Linked DNA regions of Homo sapiens. The protein of the gene in region 2 interacts with the protein of the main gene of each other region in a pairwise test. Each region holds a gene or a part of one and is shown on either strand. Other genes may lie near its edges.

Region 1 (3,500 bases), about 200 Mb from region 2:
TCCCCTCGATACTTTATTTTCCTCCTTTCTTCTTGTCCACATTGGACATACTGCATATCTGCTGGTCTGCTGACTGCCTGACACCGCTTACCAAAACGTGACCTCCGTGAAAGTGCAGGAGAACACACTTGCATTTTCCTTACTGTGTCCCACTTCCTGGAACAGTGTCTCCAGCACGAGCCGTTGTCAGATCAATACATTTACACTACTTCGTGAAGCACCACTAAAATGATAGTAAACGATTTTTTCTTTTTTTAAGATACAAATCACGAAAGCAAAGAATAAGAATAGAGATAAGAACATTAAAATACTGGAGGCTAGAAACTGGAAACAGACCTAAAAGGGCTGAATCCTGTATCGGCAATGGGGAAGGCCAACTGGCAATATGACTGGAAGCCAGGAGACCTGAATTAAAAACAGAGTTGGCTGATAGGTTTAAAAGGCACGAAGATCCCTAAGATGCACCCCACAACTCTGCACAGCCACACAGAGCCAACCTGCACAGTCCCTCTCCTATCCTGGCAAAAAGGTATCGCTTTTCTGTCTGCAAAGGGAAGTAGAATCTTTGGACTGGGGACACCAGTTACAGAGGAGGGAAACAATTCTGAAAAGAGGGAAGTAAGCTCTTTTATGGTTACTGCTGTGCTCCCAGGCCTCTCTCCTCACTTGGCCACTCAGCCAGGCAAAGGGCTACAAGATATTTCTCTGGGGAATCTGAAGAAACCCAAAGAAGCTGACAAGGGTGCTGTAAGGAAATGGCCCAGCCAGGTGCCTCTGCAGTGAAAGCCACAGTCAGCCACAGACACAGGCTCAGAGGCCCTCTGACTCACGAGCAGGCACAAGAACATCACTGCATAGCCCAGAAAAGGCTGACAAAAGCCAAAAACCCACAACAAACCAGAGCAGCCTCAATAGTGACTTAAGGAAAAAGAAAACAGGGAAAAATAAAACCTCATCAATATCTTCCAACAGTTAACAGGAGATACCACATTCATGAAACAAAAAATAGGTTATAAAATAGGAATAGAGGGAACAAGAAAAAGCTCTTAGAAATGAGAAAAACCTTGGTAGAAGGGCTGGAAGACAAACTTGAGAATAACTTCCAGAAAGAAAATGAAAAACCAAAGGGTACAAAACATCAATTAGACAGGAGGAATGTGGTTTTCTTTTATGAGATATATTGTACAGCACGGTGAATATAGTAAATAATAATGTCGATTTCAAAAGTGCTGACAGTAATCTCATATGCTTTCACCACAAAAAACTTAAAGTATTTGAAGTGATGAATTATGTTAACTTGATTTTATTATTTATTGTATCCATAAATCGTAACATCACTTTGTACCCCCTAAATATGTACAAGTATAATTTGTCAATTTACAATTTAAAAGATAAAAACAAAAACAAAAATTTTAGAGGGGGGAAAAAGAAACCTTAAGAAAATTATGAGTGCCAATCCAGAAAGTCCAAGAGTAGAATTCTAGAGAGAGAGAGAGAAAGCAAATAGGAAGAAATCAAAGCAATAAATCAAAAAAATGCCCAGCGTTGAAGAACATGAGTTGCAAATAAACAGGACCAAAGAGTAGGCAAGACGATGGATGAAAACAGTCTCCAAGGGACATCACTGTTCTGGGAGTTCTGAATTTCACAGAAAGAAAAGCCTCTGAGGCCAGATGCAAAGCCTTCACTCCCAGCACTTCGGGAGTCTGAGGCAGGAGAATCACTTGAGGCCAGGAGTTCAAGATCAGCCTGGGCAACATAGAGAGCTCATGTCTACAAAAAGTTTTTAAAATTATCCAGGTGTGGCGGTGCATGCCTGTAGTCCCAGGTACTTGGGAGGCCGAGGCAGGAGCATCACTCAAGCCCAGGAGATTGCAGCTGCAGTGAGCTATGACAGCGCCACCGCACTACAGCCTGAGCAACAGAGCAAGACGCTGTGTCTCAAAAAAAAACAAAAGAAAGAAAGAAGAAAAAAAAGAAACAAAAACCTTCAGGTTTCATGGAGGAAAACATAGTCACACACAAAGGCTCTAAAAATGTTACGTATCAATAAAAGAGAATCAGAACGGCTTAAGACTTCAACAACACTGGAAACTTAGAGACCGCGGAGCAAAATGATGTCCAAATTCCTACTCAGGATAAGAGCAGAACGAGGCACTTTCGTACATACAAATTCTGAAAACTTCATCTGCCATGCACTTCTCAGGCAACTAGTGAAGGATGTGCTCCATCGAAGTGAGACAGTCAAATCAAGAGAATGACATAGGTTCCAGAAAAGTGAGGCTCCAACACAAGAGGGAGTGAGGAGAGTTACAGGAAGATTTCAGGCACAGACAAGCCTGCAGCAGATTGGAGGCGCTGGGAGAGATTTATTCAAGATAAAATGATAGGAATACTAATTTTCTTCAAAAGAAAACGGACAATTTCTTGAAAGATTTAGATAATTGCTTCAGAATTTGGGGTTGAATTGTAGTGACAAAATATAGAAAACTGAGCAAGCAGCAAGCAAACAAAAACAAATAAGACTTGTAATAACCCAGGAAAACAAAAAGTTATCCAGAAAAGTGAAAACAATCCTATTATACCACTTCGTCCAGCTGTAAATGGCAATATGTAGTCATAATATAAACAATCAATACTGAACTAACCAAATTAAGGATATATCACTTTGGGCAGCCATGGATCCGTTTGCACTGAGAAGGCAGAGGGTGAAAGAAAGCTAGGAACTTCCTACCTATTCTCAGTGTCAAGCGAAGAGACATCACATGAAACAGGGGTAGGAGACACAAATACAGACGTCAAGCAAATATGCTCTTTAGAGTTGGAGGCAAAGATCAAGGAAATCTACTAAGGCTGAAGTAGATACTCTGCAGGGGAGGAAACATGATTAGGGGAAGGATGTTGGCACTTCTTTCTTACAAGCCTTTCTAGGATTATCTGACTCTACAAATGACATGAAGCTGTAACCTTGATTTGAAATAAGATTAATATGAATGCTAATAAAAAGTAGTAAGGGAGAGTATGTAGTCAATGTATTCTTACCAAATTAACAACAAGTATCAACAAGATGACTAACACAACCACATGATGTCCAGACACGTCTCAGAACAAATGTCTAGCTCATCTTCAACGGTATTCGAGGAACTTCAGTGTGCTTGGTAAAACAATAGCCTACTAGGGATTTCACTTCTAAAATGTCTCTGACTTTAGAAATACCAAAAAATAACATGTAACCAAGTTTTAAAATATTATACACATGAAAAAAGGTTCTTTTCATTATTTTCTTGGTTTCCAGATGTTGAACGTTGTGGTGCTTTTACAATTGAAGAGAAAAAGCATTCTGACACATTATACTGGTTGGGGTTCTCTGCTTTTCTACTTGGTCAAAAACCTTTACACGCATTTTGGACTTTGTGTCATCATAACTTGGCAATTGGGAAAGCCGCATGATATGCTTCTTTCAGAACTTGGTTACTTCTTACCAAAAGAGGGAAAAGCTT
Region 2 (3,500 bases):
TGTCATCCCAACATATTCCACTCAAAGCAGTACAAAGTTCCATTGTTTAAGTTTTTCAAAAGGCAGAGTTTGACTAGAATTTTTTTTTATCAGTTATAATACTATACTATTCTTTTTTTACTCTTACGGTTTTTTCCCAAAATAATCTACTTTTAAAAACCTATAATTAATTATTTCAGCCAGTATCTGCTGCATATCTTATTCCTTGCTAAACACTTACACGTCTTCACTGGGAAAGCTTGCAGTCTTACTGAGAGATTAAAAATAATCATAGTGCAAAGAGATTCACAGTTAAACGCTAAAAATAGTGGTAAAGACATAAATACTGGAGAAGCTTATAGAAAGATGACCTCAGAATGAGCAAGAGTGGTCATGGAAAGCGTTGTGGCAAAGACAGGGCAGAGAAGTGGCCACGTACTTAGTGCTGCCACACATACATTCAAAGCCCTGCTCCACACCTTGCCCTGGCCAGGTCCACCTTTGAGGTGATGACGACAGTTGCTGAGAAAAGAGAAAAGACCACTGGCTCACTACTTGTTTCTGCTGCTATAATAGAGAGGAGAAAATGATGAAATGCTCTTTTTACCTTCCTGTTTGAAGATTGCCTGGTCATAAAAGGGAGTCAGAGGTCTGACTTCTCCATTTCCATCCCTTAGGGGACTCTTTAACAACAAAAAGAATGTATTACAAGTATGTCAAGCTGATAACGCAAGGCTTTTCCTCCTGGAAGATTGCTGTAGGTGATGAGTTTCTAATCCCAAATATATTTGCATTTACCAGGCTTTTGTGAGTTTAAGAAGTTATCTATCATATCTTTTTTTTTTTTTCTATAGAAAAATGCTTGTTTCTATCAAGAATGACTCCTTTATAAACTGGGGAGTATCTTTAAGAGTGGTTTCAACCCTGACTGTATAGTATCATCTGTTGAGGAGCTTAAAAAAAATATGTAGGCCCAGCCCACACTAGACTGGCATTGGTACCTGGTATCAGTATTTTTTAAAAACTTCCCATAGGATTCTAATGTACAGCCAAGATTGAGGACCATTTGTCTGTCATCTGGGATTATGCTTAATAAATTAATACTGTTTTTTAAATTAATTAGATTTCACTTCTAAGTCATTATCAGTAAATTTACTCAGTATCTAACTGACAAGAATTTCTAGCATATATTTCTTGATTAGTGCATGTAAAATTCTAAAAGAATTTCTATAGTATTTTCCAGGCAATAAGACAACTAGTGCCCCAAATTTACCAAATGCATGAGTCTAAGCCTGTGCTATATATAAATATACTCAAAGCCAAGTTTACATCTGTGTACACAAGTGTGCATGCATATGTACAATTAAAGACTATAGTTGTAACAGTCATGAGCTTGTGTTTTGATTTTACTCCTATTCCTGTATTGTATTAAGTGTACTATCATGTTCTTGAGGCATATCTCCAGGAGATATGTTTATTTCTTTTCCAGGAAAAGTGGGACATATATAAGTAGGGTAAACGCTAGAGCTAGATACTCCTTTAATCTCTATTACGTCAGATCTCTGGCTCCCTTTTACAACCAGGCAATCTTCAATTATAGGTGGCTAATAGGGAAGAAAATCATCGGCAGAGCAACAGCTTCATGTAATTTCAGAGTAGAAAAATGAATTTTAATCTTCTGAAAGGTAATATTAGAATTAGCTGGATTGCTACACTTAGGAATCATAGGTTCCAAATAAATATCAGTACATACGGAAATCAGATAATGGGACAGATTATTTGAAATTAGGGCTGCCTAGAAATCTGGAATGTGAGATCACCCTCCTTCTGACCAAATATGCTTGAATAAACTTAATATTCCAAATTATGTGAGGGATTGCCTATTGTGCAAAAAAAAAAAAACGAAATCTGAATTTAAAAAAAATTACCACAGTCTAGTATTATTTTAGTCTCTTGGATGTTATAACGTTATCTGTTCCATCTGTTGTTAATATGAGACACTGTACAAACAAACAACTATATTGATTTAGAATCAGTATAGATCACCTAGCTTTTTGTCTCAATTTTCCTACTTTAATGCTCTTGGGGCTTTCGCTTTTGATTTTCAGTTTTTTCCTTAAAATAATTAATATTGTTGAAATTAGACTTTCTAAATTTAAATTTATCAGAATTTCCTATGTAAAATGAGTCTAGGCACCAAATGTTTAATGACTTTAAAAAAAATGTTTATGACTATAAAAGGAAAAACCCTGTATCAATTTCAAGCTTGTTTTATATCCAAAGTGCTAGTTATTTTGTGATGAGAATATATGCCCCAAGAACATTTTTGAAAGACATATAATTAGTAACTTTTTTATTTTTCAACTTACATAAAATAAACTTATTACTTGTTTCACAAGTTTGAGTTTTCAAAATAATATTTACTAAATGGCATATTTATATACATCCAGCTGAACTTTTTGCTTGAATTGGGTTTCTACATTTTAAAAAGTCTTTCAGTAATATACGATTTTTTTATGAATGTTTTTCATTTAATAATTATGAAATCAAGTAAAGCTAAAAGGAATCTTAAATTCCCAATATGATATCATTTTTTTCTTCTCAAAAGTAAGTAGTAATGAGGTTTTACTATAAACTGTTACAGCATTCTTTAAAACGACAATGACAATAACATTTTCATCATAATACAAATTTTTGCAGATGAGTTGAATATATCAATGAAAGAAAAAAATCTACTTTTTCTTGTTTCCTTTCACAGGCAATGATACCGTCTTTATCCAAGTTACTCTGCCCCATGGCCCAAGTTAGTATATTTGGTTTAAGACTCATAATTCTTGCTTTGGCTTTAAAAATCAAACCAAGTGTAACCTTTCCTGCTAAAACTCTTCTTGGGTCTGGCAGCATTGGTACCTTGCTTGCAACATCCTAGAAGTGAGGCCTTCACTTGTGCTATCTTTAGATCATAAGTGATTTGCTTAAATTTATATATTTCTCATGCTTTTTATAAAACCTTGTTTCTCTCTTAAAAGAACATATTAAATAAGTGGCTTCCACATTTAACCATTTCTTTTTTCCAACTATAGAGTTCTAAGTATATTTTAATGCTCAACTTTGAAAAAAAAAAAAAGGCAAGAGCATGCATGCGCATATGGGAATGCTGGCAGCTACATGCAGTTTCTAAATCACAAAATATACTTAGCCTGATGGCAGGATAGATTATAGACAACTGCTTTTGACTTTAGAAGAACTTTCTTATAATTGTAATTATTCAAAGTATAGCCTAAATACTGATAAACAAAATAAAGTTCCATTTTAATTGTAAGGTAAACTAACAAGTCACTAAATTCCATTATTTTAATTATTTAAGCTAATATTTTTTTGCTGTCCTTTCATACAATTTCAAAATATGTACAATGGAAAATACTAGTTACAAGCTGAATTAACTATATTCTTAAGAAAAAAGGTAGGTGATCAAAATGTTGATCATTTAAATAATATCAGTACACAAAGTACTCTTTTTA
Region 3 (3,500 bases), about 15 Mb from region 2:
ATTCACAATAGCCAAAAAGTAGAAGCAACCGAGTGGAAGCAAATGTCCATCAACTACAGATGGATGAATGAATAAACAATAAACAAAATGTGGTATATCCATATAATCCATAAAATATTATTTGGCCATAAAAAGGAATGAAGTACTGATCTATGCTATAACATTGATGAATCTTGAAAACACTATGGTAAGTAAAAGAAGTGAGTCACAAAAGACCATATATTGTATAATTCCATTTATATGAAATGTCTAGGATAGGCAATTTCATAGACACAGAAAGTAGACTAGTGGCTACCTAGAGCTAGCGGTGTTGAGGGAGATGGAAAGTGACTGCCATTGGGTATAGGAGGTTCTTTTAAGAACGACGAAAATGTTCTAAAATTAGATAGTGATACTGGTTGCACAAGTCTGTGAATATACTAAAAAACACTGAACTGTAAACTTTAAAAGGGTGAATTTTACAATATGTATCTCAATAAAGCTGTTTTTAAAAAATCTATTCACGTGACATACAAGGTGTTTTAGGCTCTATCTTCCGCCTACCCTACCAGGTATTTCAACCTCCCCACCTCCACCTCCACTTGATCTTATTCCCATGCCTCCTCTCTTTGCACCTGTGGAACTACCTGCCTTCTGAGTGACACTTCTACTAATAATAGCTTCCTTTGCCACAGTCCCATTTTGTCTTGTATTATCTCATTAAACTACATACCAGCTAGTATTGTTACTTTTGTTTTCACGCCTGCCCCGCTTCTATTAGACTGTGAGCTCCTGAATGGCTCTTTAACTTCATATACCTAGTGCCCAGCAGTCACTCACATGGTAGGCACTAAAATATTCTTTAATAAGCACAGGTTAGCATTCTTTCAACTGCACAGAAGACAAACCCAGCAACTTGAGTTTGAATCCCAGTGCAAGTACTTCCTAGCTTTGTGGACTTGCACATGACATAGCTTCAATTTCCTAACCAAATAATGTGGATACAGTAGACCCCCTTATCTGCAGTTTCACTTTCTGAAGTTTCAGTTACCTGTGGTCAACCATGGTCTCAAAATACAAAATGGATAATTCCAGAAATAAACAATTCATAAATTTTTAATTGTGCACCATCCTGAGTAGCATGGTAAAATCCTGCATTGCCCGCATCTGTCCCAACCAGGATGAAAACCATCCCTTTGTCCAGGGTGTATCCACTGTGTCTATGCTGCCTGCCCATTAGTCACTTAGTAGCTGTCTCAGTTATCAGACCGACTGTCACAGTATCACAGTGCTTGTGTTCAAGTAACCCTTATTTTACTTAATAATGACCCCAAAGTGCAAGAGTAGTGAGGCTGGCAATTCGGATATGCCAAGGAGAAGCCACTTCCTTCAAGTGAAAAGGTGAAAGTTCTCAACTTAATATAGAAGGGAAAAAATTGTATGCTGAGGTTGCTAAGATCTACAGTAAGAACAAGTCTTATATCTGTGAAATTGTTAACAGTATATTGTTATAATTGTTCAATTTTATTATTATTAATCTCTTACTGTGCCTAATTTATAAATTAAACTTTATCATAGGTATGTATATATAGGAAAAAACATAGTGTATATAGGTTTCTGTACCATCCATGGTTTCAAGCAACCACTAGGGGTTTTGGAATGTATTCCTTGCAGACAAGCAAAGTACTACTGTAATCGTACCTAAATGCCAGGTTATTTTAAGGCTTAGATGTCATGTCTGGAAAACATCTGGCACATAGAAGGTGTCCATAAATTATGATTATTACAACAATTATTTCAACATTATTTTAATTATAATCACTAATCAACTTTTAGTTGTAATCACAATCACTAATCACTAATCTAATTTGTTTTACTGAAACAAATTAGAGTTGTGCCAATTATTAATAAAAGGACATGTTTTTCTCACTTTAATCAATATTTGAGAAAAAAGTTATCATTTCTATCTAGAGGCTTAGGGTCCCAAATATACAAAGCATTAAGACCTAAAAGCCTCAAAGAGGATAACTTCTCTATACAAACTTAGTTCTTAATTCTAGTTCTGCAATTTAGCAACCTCAGTTTAGATTTTTAAACACAAATTATAAGCTCAGATTTTTATAAATATTGAGTTTAGCCTTCAAAAAAATCAACCAATAAGCCAGGAGACATAAAAGGACAGGAATAGCAAACTAATACTGAAGTGGTTAGTACTCAAATTCTATTGAAGATTTAAATCAAACCAATTTTTGAAGAATAGTCAACAACTCTGAACAAGACAATTCACCCACACAAAGGGGGATAAAAATACCTAAGAATAGCTTGTGACTCAGCCTGCATTCCTATAAGGGGTCCCAGGGGGACTGATAATATTTAGCCTATTGTCATCTGTCTCATATCAGAACTAAATATTACAGCAAAACTATTTACTTGACATGAATAAAAAGTACAGAGGGAAAGAAATTCAGACAGATGCTTCACTTTCAAGTAAAACATCACCTCTTTGAAACAAAGACAACTTTTAAGTTTTGAAGCCATACAAGAAAACAAAAGAAAGAATAAGCAGATTCTATATCATCTATATAACAAATATTTAAAACTTCCTTGAAAACAAACTTAAAAGGTAAATGGGGAAAAATCACAACACATGATAAGCAGTTGATATTTTTAATGTACATAGGGCTATTAAAATAGATAACGAAAACACTAAGACCTCAAATAAATAATCTACGAAAGAAGAAACAGAAGAAATAAAAGTAGTTAATAAATGTTAACATCACTAATAATTAAGAAAACGAGGCTACCCACAGTGGCTCATGCCTGTAATCCCAGCACTTTGGGAGGCTGAGTGGGGGCGAATCGTCTGAACTCAGGAGTTTGAGGCCAGCCTGGGAAACATGGTGTAAACCTGCCTCAATAAAAACTACAAAAAAATTAGTTGGTCCCAGCGGGAGGCTGAGGTGGGAGGATGGCTTGAGCCCAGGAGAAGGAGGTTGCAGTGAGCTGAGATGGCAGTGAGCTGAGATCCCGCCACTGCACTCCAGCCTGGGCAACAGAGCCAGACCCTGTCTCAAAGACAAAACAAAACAAAACACTGGCCAATACCCAGGGCTAGCAAAGGTGAATTAAATAGGGTGCTTGCAGGTACAGCCCATGGGAATACGTATTGGTATCACTCTTCAGAAGGCACTGTGAAAACATATATCAAGAGTCCCACCAACATTCATATCCTATAAAGCAATAATTTCATTTCTGGGAATCTGTCATAAGGAAATAACAGTAAATGTGGGAAATGCTTTAATTACAAAGATATGGCAGCATTAGTAATCATTGAAAAAAACTAAAAATGAATGTCCAAAAATAAAGGAATATACTAAGCCAAGTATCATGCTTCCACTTAAAATCAAATTCATATGATATGTGAATTAAATCTCAATAAAGCTATTTTGTGATCAAGTTCAGTTAGACCACATAATAACATGGAAACTGCTTATGTTCTTACAATTTAAAACTTACATTTT

What was found.
Region 1: the proteins of SOS1 (region 2) and HDLBP interact in a two-hybrid assay, tested with the Homo sapiens proteins (one large-scale study listed by BioGRID and IntAct).
Region 3: the proteins of SOS1 (region 2) and ITSN2 interact in a two-hybrid assay, tested with the Homo sapiens proteins (2 studies listed by BioGRID and IntAct).

What each region holds. Positions count from the first base shown.
Region 1 is NC_000002.12:241,309,173-241,312,672, forward strand, and holds part of HDLBP (vigilin), read right to left. Parts: intron 1-3,500. UniProt on the Homo sapiens protein: Appears to play a role in cell sterol metabolism. It may function to protect cells from over-accumulation of cholesterol.
Region 2 is NC_000002.12:38,988,552-38,992,051, reverse strand, and holds part of SOS1 (son of sevenless homolog 1), read left to right. Parts: intron 1-2,737; coding exon 2,738-2,782; intron 2,783-3,500.
Region 3 is NC_000002.12:24,350,537-24,354,036, forward strand, and holds part of ITSN2 (intersectin-2), read right to left. Parts: intron 1-3,500.